7 linked regions of the Homo sapiens genome follow. The protein of the gene in region 5 purifies or fractionates together with the protein of the main gene of each other region. This does not show direct contact. Each region holds a gene or a part of one and is shown on either strand. Other genes may lie near its edges. The genes, in order: SLC12A6, ANO6, MARCHF6, TPCN1, TMC4, SLC12A7 and NDRG3.

Region 1 (3,500 bases), on a different chromosome or scaffold from region 5:
TTTAACTTATTAGTGTTCTCTCTTCTCTCTTTTTTTAAACTAGCAATATGAAAAATAAATAGCTTTACCCCAAAGTAAATGTAGACCTGTCTGGTAAAATGAGAGAAATTCAGGTGCTACTTTGCCAAAAATTAAAGTTATTTACCAAATGGTTATGACTATAAACAGGTGAATGTCATCAATTGAGTTTTTTGCTCAAGGCCACGACAAATATAATGAGGATTAGCAATGCCGTAATAAAACTACAAACAAAAAGCTGCCATTGGTTAAATTAGCTAGAAAACTGGAGACTGAAACCCAGCTCTGAGCTAAGATAACAGGAAATTTTAAAAAGAAAAAAAAAAAGACTAAAATTAGAAGACCTGTCATTTCCTAACAATGTGGCTTTTGTTTTCTATTTCTACAGTTTTCAACTACAAAAACTGAAATTTTAAGAAGAAAAAAACTTCAGCCGTTACATTTTTTTCAGTTAAGACATCCAAAGGTAACTTCAAAACTTCAGGTTTCGCAAAGCCCCTCAGACTGACTTATTTACAATACTGACTTGATTCTGAAATCTTGTTAAGTATAAATTCCACTTTAACAGTAGCTTAAAAATTCTTCAAAAGTAAGACGCACCTGAATATCAGAAATGTTAAAATATGGTAATGTACACACCTTAGAGCTGAGCAAATATGGTGATAGTGTTTCCTACTCATCAGGTACTGAACTACCATTAAGGCAAGGTGCTGTATGCATGTGTATATGTTGTATGTTCTGCAGTTTTGTGCTTGTACCTTCAAATGTAATTGTTGAGATTCTTAAAAGTATACCAGGGCCAGGTGCGGTGGGTCACACCTGTAATCCTAGCACTTTGGGAGGCCGAGATGGGCAGATCGCTTGAGCTCAGGAGTTCGAGACCAACCTGAGCAACATGGCAAAACCCCATCTCTACCAAAAGCCAATACAAAAGTTAGCTGGGCATGGTGGTGCATGCCTGTAGTCCCAGCTACTCAGGAGGCTGAGGTGGGAAGATGGCTTGAGCCCAGGAGTTCAAGACTGCAGTGTACTACAGTTGTGCCTCTGAATAGCCACTGCCTACCCAAGTCCAGCCTGGGTAACAGAGCTAGACCCTGTCTCAAAAAATAAAAACATATATACACTGAAGCACTAATTACAGGGTTTTAACAGAGAATAGCTTCTTGTTTTTCCACATACTTGTAAAACTTATAAAACTTCATTAAAAGAATACATTGTTTTAACATTCAAATGCTCACATAATTCCTACACTATAGCTCTCCAAACTTTCATACCTACTCCTCAGAAACACACATCACCAAAAACTTAAACTCATGTAACTTCATTATTCTGAAACAACAAGCTCACCAGCTACAGCTGTGTAGACAGTGCACGAGGGCATTAAGCCAGAAGGGCAAGGGGAAGAGGGTTGAAATCCAGCTTGCCCTTCTCCAGTGAAGTCATGATGGCTCAGGGCACAAAGGAGTGCCTTTTTAGAATTTGCACAAAGTTCTTAGTAGTCCAGAAGTATATGTTAGACACGAAGGGCAAAAGAAGCAGCAGCCATAATTCAAAAGCTTACAGCATTATAAGTTGCCTTAAACATCAGCATTAGAAACATTCCCCTTCTTCTAACAGCTTTAAAATGGGAAAGCATAACTTTCATAAGGTTCCCAGGTTTGCAGGAGTACCTTCTTTCATTTCCTTCCATTCCAGTAAAGGTAATATCAAAATTTATGAGAATCTGGAATCTAGAAACATGCCACTGAGAACAAAAGAATTTGGGCTCATGATGGAAAGACTTAGTGAGGACACAGAAGAGACCACCGAAGATCAAAGACAAGAAGTTGAGGTAATCACTGTATTGATCACTGATATTTAATCAAATATCTACAGCATTCTAGGACACACTCAAAAGAAAATCCTTTAATTGTAATTTAACCTTTTTAAAAATTGGCCAGGCATGGTGGCTCATGCCTGCAATCCTAGCACTTTGAGAGACCCAAGTGAGAGGATCACTTGAGCTCAGGAGTTCCCAGACATCTTCAAAGATAAAAGCTAAGAAATAGTAAAATGTACCTTTTACTCTACTTCAACAAATTATAAACATTTGCTAATCTTGTTTTGTCTATCTCTCCCCAACTTTTTTGGGGAGGAGTGGGGAGGAAGGAGCTGGAGTACATTTCATTTAACCTGTAAATACTTCAATATATATCTTTATAGATAACAGCTTTACATTATCACAATGTCATAAACATCTATAAGAAAATTAACAATTCCTTAATATTAATATCATGTACATGTTCAAATTTCCCCCACTCGTCTCAAAAGTATCTTTTTTCAATTGTTTTATGCACATCAGAATCCAAACCAAGTTCACACACTGCATTTGGCTGATACGGCTCTTTTTATCTGTAACAGCTTTCCCTCTCTTCCCATCACTCCTCCTCCACCCCATCCCAATTATTTGTTGAAGAATCTAGTTATCCAATAAAACTTCCCATATTCTGGATTTGGCTGATTGCTTCTTGTGGTATAAAGCAGTATATTATAAAGTTTAATCTGGCTACAGAGTATAGAGAAGAGAGGAAAAACAGTTAAGGTATATAACCAGCTGGGCGCGGTGGCTCACGCCTGTAATCCTAGCACTTTGGGAGGCTGAGGTGGGCTAACTGCTTGAATGCAGGAGTTCGAGACCAGCCTGGGCAACATGGTAAAACCTTGTCTCTACAAAAAAAAAATTAGCTGGTCATAGTGGTGTGCACCTGTGTTCCCATCTACTCAAGAGGCTGAGGTGGAGGACTGCTTGAGCTCAGAAAGTTGAGGCTGCAGTGAGCCGTGATCACACCACTGTATCCAGCCTGGTTGACAGAATGAGACCCTGTCTCAAAAAAAAAACAAAAACAAAAACAAAAAAAACAAAACTATCAAGAGGATGCTTCTTTCAGACAAGCTAAGAAGGTACCAAATCAACATATTTTAGCTATTAGAATGCTGAGGTAAAACATGGATAGTATTCAATAATTATATAATATAGAAGACTTATTTAAGAGAAAGGTAATAGTCCATCCTGGCCAACATAGTGAAACCCTATCTCCACTAAAAATACAAAAATTAGCTGGGTGTAGTGGCACGTGCCTGTAGTCCCAGCTACTGGGGAGGCTGAGGCAGAAGAATCACTTGAACCCAGGAGGCGGAGGTTGCAATGAGTGGAGACCGCACCATTGCACTCCAGCCTGGGCGACAGAGTGAGACTCTGTCTCAAAAAATAATAATAACAATAATAATAATAAGTAATAGTCACCTATGATTAGCAAAACAATATAATTCACTTATTTTGGTGTGTGACTAAAAATGATAATTTTGTTTTTTGTTAGGTTTTGTTTGTCAGGGTAGAGGTATTTATTTATTTGAGACAGAGTCTCGCTCTGTCATCCAGGCTGCAGTGCAACTTCCGCCTCCCAGGTTCTCATGCCTCAGCCACCTGAGTAGCTGAGATTATA
Region 2 (3,500 bases), on a different chromosome or scaffold from region 5:
CATACTCATCTACCAGTATTCTTCAAACTGCTTTTTGGGATGGATGCTAATTAATTTTAGTTGCAATGACCAAAATACAAAACTAAAGAAAAAAAAATAATGTCATAAGACAATCATTTGGCTGAATAAAATTCCTTCAATCTGTATCTTTACATATGATTTACCAATCAGTTGAGTAGTACATTTCGTTGGCTAAAGGTAATTGGAAATATTTTCTGTTCTAAAATTGACTACTCTTGCACAGACCCAGCCCTGAATTCATTATAATCAGACAGCTTAAATCATATGGCATGCAAAGCTTCCATTAAAATCTAAAAATGTCTCACGCCTGTAATCCCAGCACTTTGGAAGGCCGAGGCGGGAGGATAACGAAGTCAGGAGATCAAGACCAACCTGGTTAACAGGGTGAAACCCCGTCTCTACTAAAAATACAAAAAAATTAGCCGGGCGTGGTGGTGGGTGCCTGTAGTCCCAGCTACTCGGGAGGCTGATGCAGGAGAATGGCGTGAACCTGGGAGGTGGAGCTTGCAGTGAGCCCAGATCTTGCCACTGCACTCCAGCCTAGGAAAAAGAGTAAGACTCCATCTCAAAAAAAAAAAATCTAAAAATGTCCCAAAACATATGTTTTGTTGAACATCTACTATGTGAAAAACATTACGATATTCAGGCTGTGAGATACAAAGATGAATAAGAAATCTTCTCCCCGCTTCAAGACGAGTGTTTTTGGTTAAGATGTACAGCTAAAATACAAAATACACACCAAGTAAAGTGTAACAGAAGAAAACCTAAAGGATTAGAGTGAAAACTTATTAAAATACAATCATTTTAATCATCTGCTACAGATATCACTAAGAGATCAATATCATCCTTTAATTTAAAGCCAAATCGTGAGTTTTTTTTTTTTTTTTTTTGAGACAGGGTCTCTGTTGCCCAGGCTGGACTGCAGTGGCACAATGACAGCTCACTGCAGCCTTGGCTTCCTGGGTTCAATTGAATCTTCCACCTCAGCCTCCAAAGCAGCTGGCACCACAGGCATGTGCCATGCCCAACTGATTTTTGCAGTTTTTGTATAGATTGGGTCTTAGTATGTTTCCCAGGCTGGTTTCAAACTCTTTCGCTCAAGCAATATTCCCACCTTGGCCTCCCAAAGTGCTGAGATAATAGGCATGACCCATCATGTCCGGCCCTTTATTTCCGGTATTCTTAATCCTTTATAATCTCCCTTCAAGAATATCAGAATTAAAATCCCATATAACTGATGGAAATTTTCATAGGAGCATTTGGTCTAAATTTCTAGGCTCCCAAAAGAAAAAATAATAAATGTAGAGCAATCGACATATGTGACTGCTGCAACCCCTTGAGAAAAGACGAGTGTGTATACAGCTAAAATACAAATTAAGTAAGAGTAACTCTTATTCTTTTAGAGCTGTGTTTGTCTCAGAACCAAATAAAGTATTTTAAGAGGATACTGGAGGACCTTTTGGAAAGCTATTATTTGACTTGAAAGAATGTGCAAGATAAATCATGTCTGTGGACTTGAAACTGAAAATAACAAAAGGTTTATAAAAAGAAGCAAGACTATTCTAAAAGAGAGTTTGAGGATAGTTTGCTTTGTTTTTAGCTGTCATCTCCTTGGTAGAGAGTGTGCATACAGACACACACACACATATGTATATATAATGTATACATATTTATACATGTGTATATATTTATGATATGTACACAACATGATCCCCTTGCCATCGTGAATAAGGCCAGGGTGTATCAAGATTTAATTTTTGAGAAATCATCATGCCTTTAGAAACACTCAGGACGCTCTGCTGTCCTAGCCCCATGCCCTCACCTGTCTTTTCATCCCAACAGGGCTGGCTCAGGTGCTGCCCCAATAGAGCTGTCCTGGATTCCCCTAGGCAAGGTCACGTGCTTTCTCCTTGGTATCACCACTGAACCTGGTACAGATCTTGATTACAGTATTAATCACAAGTTACTGAAATTATCCGTTTCCTTTCTAGACAGTGAGGTACTAGAGAACAGTGAACCTGGAACCTAGCAGAGTGCCTGGTAAAATACATACACTCAGCATTTTTAGAACAGATAACTGGGGGTATCTCAAAGTGCCACAGAAGAAGAAAATTCTACTAGGGCCATAAAACCACTAGGCATTATGTTAATCAAGTTATCTTAGAAGAATAAATCATCCATTCCTTCCACAATTACTTGCTTGGCTCCTACCAAGGTGCCATGAGGGACACAGCTTAAAACACAAAACACACAAGGTACCAGTCTTCAGGGAGCTTACATTTTAGAGGAGAATGAGGAAAAGAGACAACTCTTAAAAATTATAGCAATGGAATATGTACAATATTTAAGATATTTTGCATGATCTCTAGAAGACTTAAATAACCTAGGCCAGTCACCAAGAAATGTACACTATGGTTATGGGAATGATAAACGCAAAGATAATGAATAACAAAGACAAAATACAGGATGAATGCTAACTGCATAGAACAAAAAAATAAGTGAGAATTCATTGTGAGCACTTTGGGCTAAGAGGATCATTAACAACTTTCTGGGTTTGTGACAGACTTGGGAGGGGAGGGAGGCTGTGAGCAGAAAAACACTAAGTGTTTTTTCTATTCTCTTATTCAACAATCAACACAGAAGACTTCAGTGACCAAATGTGCAAGGATTTCTCCCCAGCAACAAGCAAGCAATCAATTCTGCAGTGGATACCAGCTGGGTATCCTCCAAGTGAATTCTGACACTATTTACCTGGAGATGGTGTCAGATCCCACAGTTAAGGGTTCAGTCCCACAAAATTGCCCCCCACTACTTCTGATGCCAATCACAAGCCCCGGGTCATTTTACCTATGCTTCTGATGAACTGTTTATAAATTGGGGTTCCCACGACACCCTCCTTGGGTTCCATTAATTTGCTGTAGTGGCTTGGGGAACTCAGGGAAACACTTCCCGTTTACCAGTTTATTATAAAAGATAAAGATGAAGAGATGCATAGAGTGAGGTATGCGGGAAAAGGCACTGAGTTTTCACGCCCTCCCAGGGCAAGCTACCTTCAGGTACCTCCACTGTTCAGCTATCCAGAAACTCCCTGAACCAGTCCTCTTGGACCTTTATGGAGACTTCATTGGATAGTCATGATTGAACCATGTTGAAAAGTGATTGGACAAAAAGCATACGATTTAATACTAATAGACTGAATGGGGAAACCCAGCAAGGCCTGTCTGATCAGATTTTTCTGGCATCTCTGTGCAGCATTCCTTCCTCCAGGGTATGGGGCAGGATCCCTTCTGAAATGGGGGTCTTATGGCCTACATTCAGACAAGGTAGATGGGAGAATTTCTTTATGGGCAGTTCTCACACAGAAAGATGGGGAAAGATTATAGTTTTAGTTTCTAAAATTGGAGAGACAAAGGTAAAAATAGGGCAGGTCAAAGATGGAGATTGTTTTCTGAGGCCTGCTTCTGCTTCTGAGGCCTAAA
Region 3 (3,500 bases), on a different chromosome or scaffold from region 5:
CTGAGTAGGTAGGAGGATCGCTTGAACCCAGGAGGTTAAGGCTACAGTGAGCCATGATCGCACACTGCAACCAAGCCTGGGCAACAGAGCAAGACCCTGTCTCAAAAACAAAACAACACAACTCTCTTATCTGCAATTCTAAGCCCACCATGCCTAATGTGCCCTAGTCCTGACATATTCCTGGAATGCCCTTCCCACTTCCTTTTTTTCACTCTCTGACAGGTCTCTCAATGTTTAAGACAGTTCAGGCACCACCTATTCTAGGAAGATTCCTTTGGGTCCATATTAAGAACAAGTGGTTCTTGATTGAAGGAGTCACAGCACCCACTGTAAACACCAGCATGAGAGCTCAAATCTGCCACTGTCTTTCTCATCTGAGTAGACTGTAAGCTCTTTCTGAGCAAAGACCACGTATGCTCTCTATATCCTCACAGACACTGAAAATATCAATCATAGACACTTAAGACATGTTTGCTGAATGACTGAACACATGTGACCCACAGTAATCTACAAAGGTATAATAATGACTATTTTTACAAAAAAAGAAATGTGAGGCTGAGAGGTTAAATAACCTGCCCAAGTTTTAAAATGATCAGACTCACAAGCCCATGTCATTATTAAAGGGCATTTTAAAATAACAGACTTGATATAAATGATGACTTCACTGTAATCATATAGCAGTCATCAGCTTACATTTCTGACAAAATTCTGAGGTGCACAAAGATTGATCACTTGCTAACGAACATGTAATAGGCACATTCTTAACCAATATTGCCTTCAGTTTCCTTAGCTATAAACATGAAATTATCGCCTACACTTTGCAGTATTTGAGTGGAGATTAAATGAGAAAACATCCAAATGCCCATTCTAGTTCCTGACACACTGTTGAAATGTATCAATAATGTTAGTTTCTTAATTACTCTAGAGTCTTTTCCTCTTAAATAGGGAGCAAGAGCCCAGGGAATCCCAACTCTTTGACTTATCTCTAAAATTTGATAAACTTACCTAATCATTTACGTTACATAATGAGGGTAATAAAATGTGGAACATGTCTACACAGAGGACTGCATACTAATAGCACCAATTCTCAACAGCAATTTGGAGAACAAAAAAACCAAAAAAACCTCTATATGTGATTAAGTCTGTATAGCACCTACCCTGAGTGGAAAATTTAAAGGTCGGCGGTAAGGCTGAAAGCCAACAGGCCCTCCCTGCTGGAGTATGGCTTGGTGGGCTGCATGAAGGCCTTCTCCCACCACAGGAATAGCGTTGTTATTTCGAGCATGCTGATTATTGTTAACTTGTTGATTTGCACTGTTTTCATTTTCTTCCTGGTCTCCCAATAAATAAGAATGAAGATCCCTGTGCAAAAATTACATCAGTAACAAGTCTCACTTCAGGTCACAATAAAATGGCAGACATGACACTCATTTTCTTCATATTTACTACTAAGGGTAGAAAATGTATAATACAGAATTTGTGCACCACATTATTACCTAATTTTGGTCTAAATGTTTGTACCCACTTTAAATCAAACCTTTCTAATGTTAATGAACTTGTAGGATATCCCATAAATTCAACCTATTTTACGTTTTCTTCAGCCAGTATCTGAGAAGAAATCAGTAACTGAAAGAAAAAAGTACAATGTACAAGATACTTACAAGTACACTTGTAAGTACAAGAGGTAAGTACTTACAAGCACAAGGTGTAAGTACATACTTACAATGTACAATATTGTTAAGGATCTACAGGAGGAAAAGAAAAACTTCTTATCTTCTCTACAGATGACTACTGCAACATGTAGCTACAAGCTATAAATTTGTAAAACCTCCAAGCTATAAATCAGTTAGGTCAGAAATGAGACTGGGGGAGGAAGCAGTTAGAGGACGACAGATGTTCAAGCAAATATAACCAAATCTGTACTTCACCTTTAAGATACCTACAAGATGCCAAACTGAAAAACTTTTAAAGATTCAACTTTTAAATAAATATAGAGTATATAAAGCTTGGGGAAAAAAATGCAACATGTTCACTAGAAGATTGAGAAATCAAATTTGAGAAGAACCCATTTCCCAGGTTATGAGCACTAAATAAAGGTAAGTTAGTTGGTCTAAATAAAGGTAAACTGGTTTGTTTTTAATGCACTAAAAAAAAAAAAGACATTTACTCCATGAAAGCTGGACCAGCAGCAAACTTCTATAAGAGGGCAAAAAGATGTATATATTCTCCATGAAAGGATGGACAATAAGAAAAAAAAATTTCATTTAGAAGTATTATATGCAATTGCAAATATTACTAAATTGTCTCTTATTAAAACTAATTTTTCTTGAGTGGGCCATGGAACATACTTTTTCCAGAAAGGTTATTCCATAGTCACAAATGACATGCATGTCCAAGGAGTCAGCTGCCCATACTCACAGCAAGTATCCGGCGGTCACAGTCCACGCTCGCACCAGCCCCTTCAGCCACTGCCTCGTGTGTCCCTGTTCGAGTAATGCTGGCAAGACAACCTGAAGCAGAAGCAGCTCGAGGGACAGTTCACTCACTGGAGCATCACTGAAAGAGGCAGGATTTATAATGTGAATTGTATTTTGCATATGACTACTATTTAATGGGATTACAACGCAACTTCTTAAGAATCTAATAAACTTACTGTCTTTATTACCTCTCCTTTCATTCTCTCTCCAACTCAGTGAGGCTTTCCCCACAAACTCCACCAAATTGTTTCTGATAAGGGTCACCAAAGACTTTCATTTTGCTAAACTGATGGGTAGGTCTTGGTTCTCTCCTCACTTGCTATATTAGTAGCATGTTACACAAAAGGTCACTCCTTCCTTTGACACCTCACATCCAAACAGCTAGAGAATCCTTTTGACTGTACCTTAACAATATCCTAAAAATTTCTCAAGGCCTCCACTGCTACCTCCCCTTCATCTCTGCCACCCTCACCTCTCACCAGGATCATTGCATTATCCTCCCAGCTGGCTTCCTGTTTCTGACCTAGCCACTCCAACCCAGTTTCCTCTCATCACAGCAGTCAGAATGATCCTCTTTAAACCTAAGTTAGATCACTCCTTTGCTCAAAGCTTTCCAAGAGCTCCTCAATTCACTCAAGCAAAAGCCAAAGTGCTTATGTCGTGTAAGACTCTCTAGGAGGTGGCTCTCCATGACCTTTCTGACTTCAGGGCCAATTCTTTGCCTTCCTCCTCCTACTACAGACAAACTTGCCTCCCTGCAGATCCTCAAACAGACCTGGGTGCCACTGCACCTACTTTCTGCAAGAATATTCTGCCTTCAGGGATCCACGTGGCTCACTCTCTCAACTCCTTCAGGGCTTTCCTCAACTGTCACCCCCTCAGGTCTTTACCAGTCACTATTCCTAAATTGTAACCCCATCCTGCCCACTTTCTATACCCTTACTGGCATTTTTTCTGCCACTTTAAATAATCAGGATATAAGTATTTTCCAATTCTAATTTAATAAAATACAAATTTGAGATT
Region 4 (3,500 bases), on a different chromosome or scaffold from region 5:
ATATCGACCAGTCAACTCTGTGGTTCTGGAATTTGCTTCCAAAAAATCTAGGTCTAGAGAGGATGATGAGCCGGAGTGAAGATACAGATGGGTGATGGGCACGGGGATGCGTGTGGTAATGTTCTCTTCACTTTTATACATGCTGGGAATTCCCCACAATAAAAAGTCAAACACAGGACTCTAGGACCAATCTCTTGCCTCTCCCGCTTCTAGAACAGCAAAGGACTCAGGGGGAAAGTGGCCTAGAGTGGAGATATTTCACACTTACACATGAAATACTGGAAGGCCTTGGACTTCACAAGGATATTAATACCTATTTGAAGAAAAGACAAGTTAAAATGTAAATTTACGCACTTGTTCCCCCTACTGTATCCTTAATTATTATTATCTCTTTCTGGGCAGGTGCAACCACCTACCACACTCTTCGTGCATGCAGGTAAGCATGGTCTTTACCCCAGAGGTGAAGAAAGGAGGGTCCTGCTCAAAGAGTGGTACCCATGCTTCTGCTCAGACCCCCAGACAAGACTGCACTGACTACAGCTGCTCTGGGGGGAGCCTGAGCAACCTGGAACCAAGATAGAGCAGGACAAAGCTCTCCTGATCACTGCTGAAACTGGCATGAAATTAAGGGGCAACTGTCAGGTAAATAATACGAGCACCCAATTTCAAATTTTCAAACTTTACACTACACAAGCATTATTCAAGGGGTCATGCAAAGTATACATCCTGCCATAAGAGGAGGGCAAAAATATATTATCGGGGTCGGGCGCAGTGGCTCACGCCTGTAATCCCAGGCCTTTGGGAGGCCGAGGTGGGTGGATCACGAGGTCAGGAGTTCAAGATCAGCCTGGCCAGCATGGTGAAACTCCATCTCTACTAAAAACACACACACACAAAATTAGCCGGGCATGGTGGCACATGCCTGTAGTCCCAGCTACTCGGGAGGCTGAGGCAGGAGAATCGCTTGAATCTGGGAGGCGGAGGTTGCAGTGAGCGAGATCGCACCACGGCACTCCAGCCTGGGCAACAGAGCGAGACGCCGCCTCAAAAAAAAAAAAAAAAAAAAAAAAAATATATATATATATATATATATATATATATATACACACACACACACATATATATACACACACACACACACACACATATATATATACACACACACACATATGTGTTATTGGATGAAAAGGCAGATTACAGAATGGAATATATAATGTCACCCTACTGTTTTAAAAATGCATAGAAAAATGGCACAGAGGGAAACACATCAGAGAACTAACAGTGGTTATCTGGGTGGTAAATTTCCATTTACTTCTAATTATCTCACTTTCAAGTTTCTTCAATGAACATCTTTGCTTTTGTATGAAAAAAGAAAAATACCCCAAATGTCTTGGTTGGGTTAAGTTACCCATTTTGGTTGGGTTAAGTTACCCATTTCTCTCCCAATCTGCTTCCTACCACCCTTACGTCCCTGCTGGGGTAATCACACTGTCTCTTCACACAGGCATTCAGACAAACACACACACACACACACCCCTCTGAACCTCTCCTCAGACGCTTATCTGTGGTCTCTGAAAACCTCCATCGGCCCCCAGCTGCCAACACCTGCCATACTCAAGCCCACTTACCTTTGAAGATGAGGAGCGCCGTCCTGGGAAGCTCATCAAACCAGTGCTCTCTGTTTTTCTTGGCCTGGTAGACAACAGGACCAAGAGGGAGGGTGTCAGGGCCAGGGACCAGGGCCCTGCCTGGAGCCAGGATGCTGGCTTCCTTTCCTGTTCACCCTGCTAAACTGGGGAACAATGTTAACCTTCAGGGATCTACATGACAACACAGCCAGCCAGTGTGTACCGAGCGTTTACAATGTGCCATGCAGAGGCCTTATTTTAGTATAGTCCTGAAATGAGGTTTGTCAGTAGGGATTATCCTTACGCCACTTCCCAGGTAAGACAAGCCTCAGAAAGGCTCAGTAACCCGCCTGATGTCACACAATAACCAATGGGGTCTAAGTAAGATTCGGTGCTGTTAACGATGACACTGTATCACAAATGTAAGGGCAGATTTGGGGGCTGGGGCCACCTGTGATCCCTGAAGTGTACCATGCCAAGCTGGGGGCTGAGCTGCTCTAGCAGGGAGAGAGCTGGATCTCGGGGTGCCCCTGCTCCTCACTGCCCCACGTGGGGACCTCTCTGTCTACTCCTTCTATGGTCTCAGAGAAGAACTCACCTTCCACTTCAAAGCAGCAACTTCGTAGATATCGTAAAAGTCCTTTAGGCTACCAAAAGCAAAATAAAAAGGGACAAAATATCAGAACATAGTTCCACTGTGCTTTGCTTCTCTTACTTGCCTGCCTATGGACACCTTTATGGGGTGAGGGAGGAAGAGAGGGGACACCATGTGAGTCCCAGCACAGCAGTGCTGGGGGATCCTTTACCTGCAAGCGTTTGGATCTCCTCTGACCTTGAGGTACTACAAATATGTAATCCACTTAAGTCTCCACCGATGGCACTAACTACGGACAGTGTCAGTGCCCTGGAGAGGCAGCTGCTGGAGCACTAGGATTCTTAGGAGGACGGAAACTTCACTTTTTAGCAGGGGCCTTAATGCAACACCTGGGACTGCAAGTTCAGCTCAAACAGGGCTTGTTCTCAGCTCCACAGCAGGCTGCTGTGGACAGGGCTTGGTCATCAACAGCCTGGAAGACCAATCCTACCCCTGGAGATCTCGGGTCAGTTCTCTGCGGCCGAGCCAGGTGTGTGCAGGGGATTGGGGAAGTATATTCACCCCTGTCTGTCCACCTGGCTCACATGGGACTATCCCACCCCACTGGGGGTTCGAGGGCCAGCAGCTGGGCCAGTCCACTTCATGAGCTCCTTTTTTCTCAAGTCAGCTTGAATTGGATTTGTGTTGGACTTTTGTCACTTGCAAAAGGCATCCTGATGAATCCAGTGTGTAAGTCTACATGGATAAACATCTGTGGAGGAAGTCTCTGACAAGCCTATAGGCCTGCCCACCTCAAGGGCCTTCACATGCCCCCGTTCACTCTAGACGTGAACACCTTGTCTGGCCATGCTGCCCCTACCAGGCATCTGCTCTTACCTGAGCAGGGGTGTGTTGTTCTGATTCAGGGCCTTGAAGGTAAGATAGCGCTCCCTGGCACTCATCCGGGGCTTGTAGAAGCGCATGAGGCCTTCAAACTGCCTGTAGGAGATGCCGGCAGGCCTCTGGGGGAGAGGGAAGAGCAGTGTGGAACCCAGGCTACTCCCCTTCCCTTGGGGCACCCACTCCAGATCCACTCCAGCTCTGTTCATTCTTCCAAGGGCAGGGTTCCTGGTTTCTAAAGTGGCTGGCCTGGCCATGCTTAGGGGCTGCTCTGGGCAAGGGAGGGAGGACAGGGACCAAGCCCCTCCCTGGCCCATAGTTCCTACCCTCTGGCTGATGAGCAGGCGGTAGGCATGCTGGATAGCGGTTCGCTTGTGCAGTAGCAAAGACTTGAACTT
Region 5 (4,010 bases):
AAGAGGTTACCTTGTATTTGTGAGGAAAAAGGGGGTGTCAGGGGAGGGACGCACAGGGTGCTGTCATGCCGTGTCACTTGCCCTAGCTGGAGTTTATCTGGGCTCTCACTTTATGAATACAGCCATCCCTCAGTATCCATGGGGGTTGGTTCAAGGACTCCCCAAGAATACTGAAATCTGTAGATGCCCAAATTCCTTATATAAAACGGTATAGTATTTGCATACAGGCTACACACATCCTCCTGTGTTTGTTTTATTTTATTTTATTTTAATTTTTATCTGATTTTTACAGACAAATGTCTCGTTTTGTTGTCCAGGCTGGAGTGCGGTGGTGCAATCATAGCTCAATGCAGCCTCAAACTTCCAGGCTCAAGCAATTCTCCCGCCTCAGCCTCCCAAAGCGCTGGGGCTACAGGTATGGGCCACGACACCCAGCCCTCCAATGCACTTTAAATCACCTCTAGATTACTTATAACACCCGGTACAAGGTAAATGTTATATAGATAGCTGTTCTTTTAACTTGTATTATTTTTTGTCATATTGTTACTTTGATTATTACTTTTAAAAAATAGAGATGGGGGTCTCGCTATGTTACTCAGGCCGCAGTATAGTGGCTATATTCACAGGCATGATCCCACTACTGATCGGTGTGGGAGTGTTGATACATTGTTATTTTTTATTGTTTTTTCCATATATATACACATATATATACATATATATGTGTATATATATACACACATATGCATATATATACGCATATATATTTGAGATGGAGTCCCGCTCTATCACCCAGGCCGGAGTCCAATGGCACGATCTTGGCTCACTGCAACCTCTATCTCCCTGGTTCAAGCGATTCTCCTGCTTCAGCCTCCCGAGTAGCTGGGATTACAGGCACCCGCCACCACACCCAGCTAATGTTTGTATTTTTAGTAGAGTTGGGGTTTTGCCATGTTGGCCAGGCTGGTCTCGAACTCCTGACCACAGGTGATCCACTCGCCTGGGCCTCCCAAAGTGCTGGGATTACAGGTGTGAGCCACTGCAATGGGCCCATAATCATTTTTGAAGGAGGGCACCTGCATTTTCATTGTTCACCAGGCCCTGCAAATTATGCAGTGAGAATGGGAAAAGAAAGAAGTTAAAGAGAGGGAGGCTTGGAAGAGGAGGCAAAGATGAAGGAAGGTATAAAGCAGAGAGAAATAAATATTAACAGATTTTGGACACACACACAGAGAGAAACTGAGGCAGAGACAGGATTGGTGGAGACCAGGGAGACGGCAAATCCCAGAGAGAAGAGACCCCAGAGCCATCGAAAGGCAGCACTCACCTGGAGTCCGAAGTAGAGACAAAGATGAGGGGAAGAAAGAAACCAAGAGAGGCAGCTCTGAGCGGGGCAGAGAGAGGCCCCAGAAGCCAGGAGCGGCAGAGGACAGAGGGAGGAGACCGAGTCCAGGGTATGGGAGAAGGGCCCGGTCCGGGCTGTGCGGGTCCCAGCTGGAGGTGGGGCCTCACCTGTGTGCCCGTCTGGCCTGCATGGGCCAGGGCAGTTCCCGGGAAGGGTGAGGGTCCTGCAGCTCTGTCTGGGTGACTTCTGTGAAGGCCTTTCTGCTCCTTCCTCCATCCTCCTCCTCCTCCTCCAGCGCCCCCCAAGGCAGCACCCCAGGGTCTCGGTACCGAAGGGTGGCAGCACTGGGCAGCTCGTTCAGCACAGAAGACAGCGATGGGCCTGGGGAGGAGCAGGGGGCTGGGAAGACCCGGGAGTCTGGGCCCTAATTCCTCCTCCCTCAGACCAGGAAACCAGGTCCCCGGCCCCTCCTCCCTCAGACCCAGGAGTCCAGGCCCCCGGCTCCTCCTCCCTCAGACCCAGGAGTCCAGGCCCCCGGCTCCTCCTCCCTCAGACCCAGGAGTCCAGGCCCCCGGCTCCTCCTCCCTCAGACCCAGGAGTCCAGGCCCCCGGCTCCTCCTCCCTCAGACCCAGGAGTCCAGGCCCCCGGCTCCTCCTCCCTCAGACCCAGGAGTCCAGGCCCCCGGCTCCTCCTCCCTCAGACCCAGGAGAACAGGCCCCCGGCGCCTCCTCCCTCAGACCCAGGAGTCCAGGCCCCCGGCTCCTCCTCCCTCAGACCCAGGAGAACAGGCCCCCGGCCCCTCCTCCCTCAGACCCAGGAGTCCAGGCCCCCGGCTCCTCCTCCCTCAGACATAGGAATCCAGGCACCCAGCCCCTCCTCCCTCAGACCAGGAAACCAGGTTCCCAGCCCCTCCTCCCTCAGGCCCAGGAGTCCGGGTGCCAGCCTCTACTTCCCCTGGACCCAGGGGTCCACAGCCCTCAACTCCATCCCCAAGCGTGGAACCCTCCTACTCCAGGGCAGTGGAGTCCAGGCTTTAACTTCCTTTTCCCTCTAGCTCAGGAGTGTGGGAACCCAGCCTCTCCTATTCCCAAGACACCCAAACTCCCAGCCCTTAGCCCTCCCCTCCTCCCAGACTAGCCTGGTTCTCCAGGCTCCTCCTCCTCAGACCCTGGAGTTCCAGCCTCCAGTTCCCTTCTCCCCCATAATATCAGGAAGTGGAACCTTCTCTCTTTAGCCCTCAGACTCAGGAGGCCAGGCCTCCCCTTTCCTCCTCCAGCAGGACTCCCACCTAGCCTGAAGGTCGGATGGATCTGAGCTTCTCCTGGCATTCCCTACCTCCTCTGGCCTCCCGGGGGGCCAGCCACTCCCTAGAGGAGCCCCAGGCTTCTGATTCCAAGGTCGGGTTTTCTTCCATGGCCCCAGGCTGGGCTGTCTCTAGTGGCCACCAGGCAGACACTGCCCCAGGTAAGGGAGGGGCCAGGGGCAGGTGTGTACCTGGCCAGCAGGTGGCCCGGAGGGAGTAAGGTACACTTCCTGTGGTTTCTCAGGGCCGCTGATGCGAAAGGTCTCCTGGGAGCTGAAGTCCCCGTGGTGCCCCGGGCCTCACAGTTTGGTTCCTGGGCTGGGCGGGGGGGCTGTACCTCACCCTGGGACTTGGTGGACTAAGTCCTTCCCACCGTTTATCACCCAGATACCTGCACGGACACGATGCCTTTGTGCAACACTTTATTGGGAAAGATTTACACACGGTGACCTGTCATAGGCCAAGCGATGAGAAGAGGGCGCCAGGAGTGCTGGGGTCCCGAGGTGGCTCAGATGGAAGCCATGGGACGGCCGTCCCCAGGCCCGCGCACCCGCACCTCAGTTTCCCCTTTGTGAAATGGGAAGCTTATGCTTCCTTCCAAGTCTGCAATATTGGTGCGATGAGCTAAAAGTGGAGCGAAAGACACAAGGAAGAGGCTTCCCACTCCCAGGACCTGCCCCCAAGCTCCGACCCCACATTGTGGATGCAAAGAAAGGGAATTTGCCCAAAACCCACTGCCCAGGGGCCCCTTCCGTTTTGGGGAAGTGCAGTGCTCTCTGGATACCCAGAAGCTGGAGCAGGGGCCAGTGACTCTTGTCTGGACAATACTTTGATTTTGTAGGAGTGGAGGTGGCCTCTGGGCAGAGGGCAGGGAGGACACCCCCGGGTCTGCTTCAGTTGCAGGCAGGGTATTTAGCTGGGGAAGAGGAAATTCTCTCCAGGACCCTCTCCAAGGTAAGGACTCTTTCTGGGGAGGAGACAGCAGCCTGGTTCACAGAATTCCCGGGACCAGCTGGCAGAGGGAGCGTCGTGACAGCTTACTCCTCCCGGAGCTTCTCCGGGGCAAGGCTGGTGGGCTGGGATGCTGCCTTCCGCCGGCTGGGGCTGCCCCCACCTAAAGCCAGCCCCAGCCCCAGGGCTGCCAGGGCCAGGAAGTGGATACAGAAGTAGATGGAGGCCCAGTACCGAAGGGTGTCGGCCAAGGAGAGCAGCACGAAGCCCATGCACATGTAGTCATAGGCGCGCATCTTCAGGAACCAGTGCACCCAGTCCCAGGCCTTCTGGCCCCCTGGGCTCAGCCGCCCCCGCAGGGCTGACTCCAGCCGGCCCTCGGCAGCCAGGCACAGCGGGATGGTCAGGAAGCT
Region 6 (3,500 bases), on a different chromosome or scaffold from region 5:
GCCAGGCAGGACAGGAGAACAGGTAGGTTAGACAGGTGGGACAGGTGACATGCTAGACAGGTGAGACAATGGCCCAGGACACACACCTGAAGCCCCCACCGAGGCCCTGAGGGGACAATGGCCCGGGGCACACCCGAGGCCCCCGCCGAGGCCCCTGAGGGGACAATGGCCCGGGGCACACACCTGAGGCCCCCGCCGAGGCCCTGAGGGGCAGAGGCTTCCCAAAGATGGCCTTTGCTTCAGCAGGAGCCACCCTCTCCCACCCCAAGCCCAGGGCTGTGCTGGCAGAGGGGCCGGCTCCCCACACCCCCACCCTGCAGCAGGGACACCCCCGGCCCCCAGCTGCGCCATCCGCTCTGCACCAGGCAGTGTTCACACCCCAGACCTTGCCTGAGCGGCTGAAGGTGAGAGGCCCCTGAGACTCAAAGGTCCCCACTCAAAGGCCGACCTCAGAAACAGCTCTTCTGTGCGTCTGAGGACCACGGGGCATGGGCGGTGCTCACCTCCAGTTCTTGGTGTGGGGGGGACCGTGCTCCACGCGCAGCAGGGCGTAGCGGGCGGCGTTCAGGGATAGGCCACGGATGCCATCGCCCCACTCCTTCTCGGCCCTGTGGGAAAGGAAGTCGGGGTTTGTCCAGCCGCGTACCTGGAGGCTCCTCTCCCACCTGGGAAAGGGGACTTCTGGGGGCAGGTGAGTTGGGGCAAACAGGACCCCCAGGAAAAGTCCCTGGATGAGGAGGGAGGCCTCCATGCCCACCCTTGCCCTGAAGGGAGCCCGTCCTAGGAGCCACCGGGTCAGAGGGTGCTGTGGCTGTGGAGGGAACGAGGTCTACGTCCAGCATGCGTGAGGTGCCTTCCTCACAGGACGGGGGACAGGAGGCCCATGACAGGGAAGTGGCTGGACCCCGGGCACGAGGCGGGTGCAGGTGGAGGGAGGGTGGGTGCTGGGGCACGGGGAAGGACGCCTGTGGCTGCCGAGTGAGTACAGACACAACCTGGGGACACCTCGCGAGACACGTAGCAGGAATAGTCAGCCGTGGGCTCACCGCCTGCTGAGGACGGCACGAGACAGAGCTCCAGGCTGGAGACCCTGTCCACAAGTGCAGGCACCTCGGCCTGGCTGGAAGTGGGAGGGAAACCCCAGCTTTCACAACACAGCCCACCTGGACGTGCTCCCAGCTGCCCCTGTGAGGGCACACGACGCTCAAGCCCCAGGGAGGCCCCTCCAGGGAGCTGCCCCAGGCATAGCATGAGAGGGGCCCGCCCTCCCGTGCGCCGGGTCTGTAAGGGGGGCTGACAGCGCTTACCCGCGGTACTCGATGTACTTGTAGATGCAGCCAGCGATGAGCATGGCGGACAGCGCGTAGTACCAGGAGCAGATGAACATCAGCGCCAGGCACAGGCTCATACCCAGAAAGGACAGGGTCCTGGGGGCGGGGCAAGTGGCTCGGGGCGGCCCAACGCCATGCAGCCCCCACACCTCAGCCACCACCACACGGACACTGCCCCTCCCTCAGTAAAACTCTCTGTTAACACTAGGAAAACAGTCACTGACGCCTGACGACCATGGCTGTACTCAACCACCTCTGAGGGGTGACGTGGCTCCCTGGGCCCCTGTGGGAGCTGTCACTCCAAAACCCAGTACATAGCTCCAGCTCCCAGCGTGCACACAGCACCTCGGCTGTGCATGCAACAAGGGGCTGAAGCGTCCACCCAGCGCCTGATTCCTGGGGAGGGGAGTTAAGAAGACCCACAGCCCTGATGGGCTACGCCCCAAGCCTGGGAAGGCTGGGCTGACCACGGGAGGTACAAGGCACATGCAGACACCTGGGCATCCTCGTAACCAGAGGCCTTCCTCAGGTGCAGTCTCATCAGCTGCGCAGGGGCTTACTCCGCAAAGGAACAGTCAAGGACGCGCTGGGGTCTTCAGGCCCAGAGCAGCTGGCCTTGTAGAGGCACCCAGTGTCCCAGCCTGTGGGGCTCCTGACGCCTGTGCTGAGCGGCCTCACCAGTGGCAGAGGCACCCAGTGTCCCAGCCTGTGGGGCTCCTCACGCCCGTGCTGAGTGGCCTCACCAGTGGTAGAACTTGAAGCGTGGACGCCAGTTGGGGGTACGTAGCAGGGTCTGCACGGCGCAGGCCAGGTTCACGAACAGGTAGCACATGAGGAAGAACCTGCAGGGACGGCCGGCCACTGATACGGGCCCACTGGGCCCCCCTGAGCCCCCAGTCACTGCCACCTGGGAGACCACCCTTGTCACTGTCCCTCCCACCTGCGCCTTGTCTCCCCATGTCTGTCTCTGCACGTGAGCTGACTCAGACTGATTCCGAATCAGGCCCCCTCAGGTTCCAGCCATCCTGTGACCACCTGGTCCATCAAGAGATGGGCCATCGTCCCTTCCCCAGCAGCCGTCTGTCCAGCCACACTGTCCCTGGCTGACCCCAGCGGGCGGCTGCCTGGAGGCCTGTGTACTTGTCTTCCCCGGCGCAACTCCCTTCCCGGCAGGATCCTGACTGCCCACAGCTGGCCATGCCTGTCTACTGCTTGTCCTGAGCAGGACCTCCCATCCACACTGCCCCACGCTCCAGGCCCATACACCCATCCCCAGGTCCCCGTCCTGTGGGGGCTCACATGGAGAGGATCGGGGCCACGCTGTCCAGAGAGGCGATGAGGATGCCAGTCTCGCAGATGAGGACTGTCAGCAGCAGCGCCCACGTGGGCTCCCCGTTGGCCTTCCCGTGGCCAAACACCTGCAGGGAGAAGGGCAGGAAGATGGGGCAGATGACACCACCCTTTTAGGAGAGAAGCTGCAGGCTGGTCAGGTCTAGCCCAGATGAATCTTAAAGACACAGACCAGCAGAAACGCCTTTCACAGTAGGTCCCCGGGACATCACGCGGCTGGCCTGGGAAGAAGCCCTGACAAAGGGCTGCAGCCCAGGAGGCTTCAGAGCTGTGCCTACGCCCGGCTTGCCTGCAACCTGTGTGGCCCCAGCCTGCCCCCCCGCCTCAGTTTCCCCGACCACACAACACAGGACCAGCGTCTCCAGGGCACTCGCGGTTCCCCAGACCCTGTGGTGACCTTTCTCATCAGGCCACCCTCACCTCCCAGAAGCTGAGGCCCACGGGGCCTGTGTGCCTGTCCCCTTCCTGGACACCATGCCCTAGGCCCGGCTGGGACTGAAGATGCAACCACACAAAGGCCCTGCGGGTCGGCACCCTGCCGAGGGACCAGCGACGGGCAAGGATGGCTCTGCCATCCACGACCTTCCCACAGCTGCCCCTGGGCCCAGGTAGCAGGAGGAGCCACAATCGGCAGCTCTGGGCACAGCACACGGACAGGACCCATGCGGGCGTCCGTGCAATCCTCAGAGCAGCCACACACACTGGCTGCAGGTGGCTGGTGACGCCACCTCCCACGGGCTGAAGAGCTCAGCCACACAGAGAAAGATGTGGCAGGCAGGCAGAGGGCTTCTGACCAGACAACAGACCAGGCACCTCTGG
Region 7 (3,500 bases), on a different chromosome or scaffold from region 5:
CCTACAAAAGGGAGTTCATAGGATTAACAATCTTTCTAATGGCTGGGAGCAATGACTCATGCCTGTAATCCCAGCACTTTGGGAGGCTGAGGCAGGTGGATCACCTGAGGTCAGGAGTTTGAGACCAGCCTGGCCAACATGGTGAAACTCCATCTCTACTAAAAATACATAACTTAGCTGGGTATGGTGGCAGGTGCCTGTAGTCTCAGCTACTCGGGAGGCTGAGGCAGGAGAATCGCTTGAACCCAGGGGGCAGAGGTTGCAGTGAGCCAAGTTTGCGCCATTGCACTCCAGCCTGGGTAACAGCGAGACTCTGTCTCAAAAAAAAAAAAAGACTCTGAGAAATGGGTTCTGTATCAATTTAATTTGGCTTCCATTACATCTACTGAAATCAAGGCTATACTTGTTAAACATGATACTGTGTTAATGGCTGTTCCTCTCCCCCCACCCATTTCTCCCCCATCTACATGCTTTTTAGGCCAAACCTCTCCCCTTTCTGGGAACTGAGGAATGGAGACACACTCTCTGTCACAGACCTAAGAGGCACTTCTTGTGGATATGTGGATGTCTGGTATCAGATACTGCAGCGACAGCAGTTTTGCTCTTCAGAGCAGAGGCCTGGCATTTTGTTTCCACCTTCCTGTGCTAAGAGAGTCCAGTAATTAAACCACATTCACTCCTTGGAAAAAACTCTATGTTGTATCAGAACCTCAGCGATGGTTCATGGGCTTCCAGCAGAATATATTCCTCCCTTTTATTTATAGAAGAGTATACAGAAATTCATTTGGACAGAAGGAGCCTCTCTATGTAACAGGCACCCTTCTGCTACTGGTCACAATCAATCAATGGTCCAGACGGCAATTATGATTTTCCACATTCCTCAAAGCTGCTCTCTCCTGAAATCACTTTGCAAATTTTGTTGACCAATTTGCAAACAAAAGAGAATGCAGTGGCCTACCCAACCTAGAAATCTGTTCTGCCTAATTCCCTTAAAAACACCATTGAGAATGCAAAATAAGTCCCTTTTTTGTTTTTTGCAGAAGCACTACAAGAAAGCGTGTCTAAAACCACAGAACTATGCACACACAAACACAGACACGCGTGCTCGCACACACAGAGTCGGGATCAAAGAATCTTATCTGATACATAGTTGGGGGAGCACGGGAAAAAGCTGGCAAGAGAGGATATGGAGAGATCTGATCAGCTAAAGATGTTGGAATGTTACAGTATGGCATGGAAGTGGTTCTTGGGCTATACAAAAAAGGGGGTGGGCAGGCAGAGAGAATGATAAATCCAGGCTACTAGAGAGAGGTTCAGTGGCCATGCATGAGTTAAAGATAGTAGAGGCCAGTTTACTGGATGAAATGTTATATTATGGAGTGGTCATTTGAAGGATGGACTTGCAATGGTCCAGGGGAGGAGCATCTGCTTAGCAGGACACCTCCATGGTCTGGTGTCTGTCCAGGACATCAGGGGACTCACAGGATTCTTGAGTTCCATCTGACTGATTGCTGGTGACAGACCGGCTGAAGGGACTTTCTCCAGAGCCGAGGCTACTCGAGGTTGAGTGGGTTCGTGATCGGGCGAGCCGAGTCATGCTGGCAGATGGTACTGTAACAGAGAACCAAGGGGACTAGAAGATGAAGCCCCGGTTAAGCCCAGCTAACCTAGGAGTCTCATCAAAGTCTTTATGTTTAGCTTTTCCGACTCATTTACCATGACACCCAGGACAAGATATAGCCATCCCCATTTTGTATCATTTGCTCTAGGTGAGTGGCGATATGTGAGGCCACTTTAATCCTTTAGATCTGGTTGGAATCTCAGCTGATTGTAGTCACCGCAGAACAAGGGGAAACCCTAAATCCAGAGTATAGCCTCTTAACTATGCCCACACCATTCAGACAGTGACAGAATGGAGGCTTTGGGAACCCAAACAGGTAACCAAAACCTACAGTGCATGCAAGACTAAACCAAAAGAAAAGAAAGACACACACACAAGTATGAAGGTGTTTCACAAACACAGTGCAAGCCCGATACAACGAGACTACCATCCGTGTCCACAGGCTACCTTGCTACCAGGGAGGAGATTTGTAGGATGGTGCAGGTGAAGGGGAGGGCAGATTGGCTTGGAGCTGACCTCAACACAGGGATGAGGTACAGGTTGCCAGGGACAGAGAAGCAGGTGTTTAACTCAGACTCCTGTTCTGCCACTGCTTGACTCTAAGGTCCTTCCAGCTTGGCTGGGACTGGGCCTTACCTGGCATAGCCTCCCTGCCTATCGTCCTGGGCAGCAGCCACTCCCCTAGCTGTCATTTCAATGCTGGGGTCAAAAGGTGCTATCATCTGCAGAGTTCTCTGGGCACAGGCTCTGACCCTCCTATTTAGAGCCAAGGCTGCCCTTGGATTCCTGTGTCTGGAGGTTAATTCAAGGATCAGTAGGTGGTGGTGGAAGATGGGCCCTGCCTATCAAGTTTCAGCTGCTGCTGTGACCCTGGATTTAGGATGACAAGAGGAGGCCTGCCCCTTACAACCAGATCCTTTCCTCCTCCTGGGGGACCAGGGCTGGACCTGTAGGCTAAATCTCTTGGGGCGTACTGAGCCACGTTCTATCGGGCTCTCACTGCATAGGAAGACCGCGGACATGCTGCAGGCAGCCAGTGCAGCCAGGAGAGACTGGAAGGCGGGGCAGGGCCAGCACAGAGGAAGGTACCTGACTCGGTGCTCAGGTGACTGAGCTGCACATACGGGACTGGAAGCAGGATGGACACAGGAAAAGGCAGGTTAGTGACCCCAGAGTGCCAAGTGGCAACCTCAGCTGCCTGGTAGACACTGACAGAATACTCTAAGCCAGGGATAAAATTTTATTTTAAGGTCCCAGAGAGGAGGTGAGGCTGACAGATACTTCAATAACATCTCAAATGTTACTTTCCTCAACTAGACAAAGGCAATTGTTTTCCCCTCTGCTATAAACAGTCATCTTGCTTTGGATCAGAAGTGGGCTGGAAGATCAGCTATTTCATAGGAAAAGGATAAGAATGGACTAGGAGAGGGCCTCCTGCTCCTCCCAGTGAGCCACAGGGCTGTGGGTGTGGGCTCGGTTGGTAGCGGCTCACAGGCAAGGATGACACAGCCACTTGAGACAAGACATACATGGTCTGCCTGGCAGGTACAGGGCTGCACCCAGGGCCCAGCTGCCCAGAGCAGCTGACCAGACAGCTCGCCAATGACCATTATCCACACTAATACCAAAGACAGGAGAAAAATCACCCTACTGGGTAAAGAGCTCTGTACCTGGGTGAAAGAGTTTTTCTAAAAACTCCAAGAAAGGAGCAAGTGTAGATAATTCTGTGACCATGAAAAAGCTCAGAGGTCTTACAATACAAGAGACCAGGACAATGGCATATGATATGGACACACCCTTGGACTTGCTCTAAAACACTCTCCAAGTTCGTCCCCTGGGGTGGAGGAGACTTTACCAAGGATACTGCCCTTTTCTCCTG

Evidence for each region.
Region 1: the proteins of TMC4 (region 5) and SLC12A6 purify together in Homo sapiens (affinity purification with mass spectrometry; one large-scale study listed by BioGRID and IntAct). This does not show direct contact.
Region 2: the proteins of TMC4 (region 5) and ANO6 purify together in Homo sapiens (affinity purification with mass spectrometry; one large-scale study listed by BioGRID and IntAct). This does not show direct contact.
Region 3: the proteins of TMC4 (region 5) and MARCHF6 purify together in Homo sapiens (affinity purification with mass spectrometry; one large-scale study listed by BioGRID and IntAct). This does not show direct contact.
Region 4: the proteins of TMC4 (region 5) and TPCN1 purify together in Homo sapiens (affinity purification with mass spectrometry; one large-scale study listed by BioGRID and IntAct). This does not show direct contact.
Region 6: the proteins of TMC4 (region 5) and SLC12A7 purify together in Homo sapiens (affinity purification with mass spectrometry; one large-scale study listed by BioGRID and IntAct). This does not show direct contact.
Region 7: the proteins of TMC4 (region 5) and NDRG3 purify together in Homo sapiens (affinity purification with mass spectrometry; one large-scale study listed by BioGRID and IntAct). This does not show direct contact.

What each region holds. Positions count from the first base shown.
Region 1 is NC_000015.10:34,327,782-34,331,281, forward strand, and holds part of SLC12A6 (solute carrier family 12 member 6), read right to left. Parts: intron 1-3,500.
Region 2 is NC_000012.12:45,222,595-45,226,094, reverse strand, and holds part of ANO6 (anoctamin-6), read right to left. Parts: intron 1-3,500. UniProt on the Homo sapiens protein: Small-conductance calcium-activated nonselective cation (SCAN) channel which acts as a regulator of phospholipid scrambling in platelets and osteoblasts.
Region 3 is NC_000005.10:10,409,195-10,412,694, reverse strand, and holds part of MARCHF6 (E3 ubiquitin-protein ligase MARCHF6), read right to left. Parts: intron 2,557-3,500; coding exon 2,419-2,556; intron 1,363-2,418; coding exon 1,158-1,362; intron 1-1,157. UniProt on the Homo sapiens protein: Endoplasmic reticulum membrane-associated E3 ubiquitin ligase that plays a critical role in mitigating endoplasmic reticulum stress, the regulation of cholesterol and lipid homeostasis, and ferroptosis.
Region 4 is NC_000012.12:113,276,964-113,280,463, reverse strand, and holds part of TPCN1 (two pore channel protein 1), read right to left. Parts: coding exon 3,429-3,500; intron 3,225-3,428; coding exon 3,100-3,224; intron 2,276-3,099; coding exon 2,227-2,275; intron 1,693-2,226; coding exon 1,629-1,692; intron 314-1,628; coding exon 269-313; intron 1-268. UniProt on the Homo sapiens protein: Intracellular channel initially characterized as a non-selective Ca(2+)-permeable channel activated by NAADP (nicotinic acid adenine dinucleotide phosphate), it is also a voltage-gated highly-selective Na(+) channel activated directly by PI(3,5)P2 (phosphatidylinositol 3,5-bisphosphate) that senses pH changes and confers electrical excitability to organelles.
Region 5 is NC_000019.10:54,170,361-54,174,370, forward strand, and holds the start of TMC4 (voltage-gated chloride channel TMC4), read right to left. Parts: upstream 2,801-4,010; 5' UTR 2,758-2,800; coding exon 2,679-2,757; intron 1,742-2,678; coding exon of another isoform or gene 1,724-1,741; coding exon 1,510-1,723; intron 1-1,509. Other genes in the region: membrane-bound acylglycerophosphatidylinositol O-acyltransferase MBOAT7, read right to left, coding at 3,684-4,010. UniProt on the Homo sapiens protein: Voltage-gated chloride channel involved in high-concentration salt taste sensation. Depolarization induced by high NaCl concentration may trigger the activation of TMC4-mediated chloride influx into taste bud cells, helping the return to resting potential.
Region 6 is NC_000005.10:1,074,064-1,077,563, forward strand, and holds part of SLC12A7 (solute carrier family 12 member 7), read right to left. Parts: intron 2,750-3,500; coding exon 2,631-2,749; intron 2,174-2,630; coding exon 2,075-2,173; intron 1,428-2,074; coding exon 1,308-1,427; intron 609-1,307; coding exon 504-608; intron 1-503. UniProt on the Homo sapiens protein: Mediates electroneutral potassium-chloride cotransport when activated by cell swelling. May mediate K(+) uptake into Deiters' cells in the cochlea and contribute to K(+) recycling in the inner ear.
Region 7 is NC_000020.11:36,652,091-36,655,590, forward strand, and holds part of NDRG3 (protein NDRG3), read right to left. Parts: intron 2,750-3,500; coding exon of another isoform or gene 2,711-2,749; intron 1,612-2,710; coding exon 1,430-1,611; 3' UTR 1-1,429.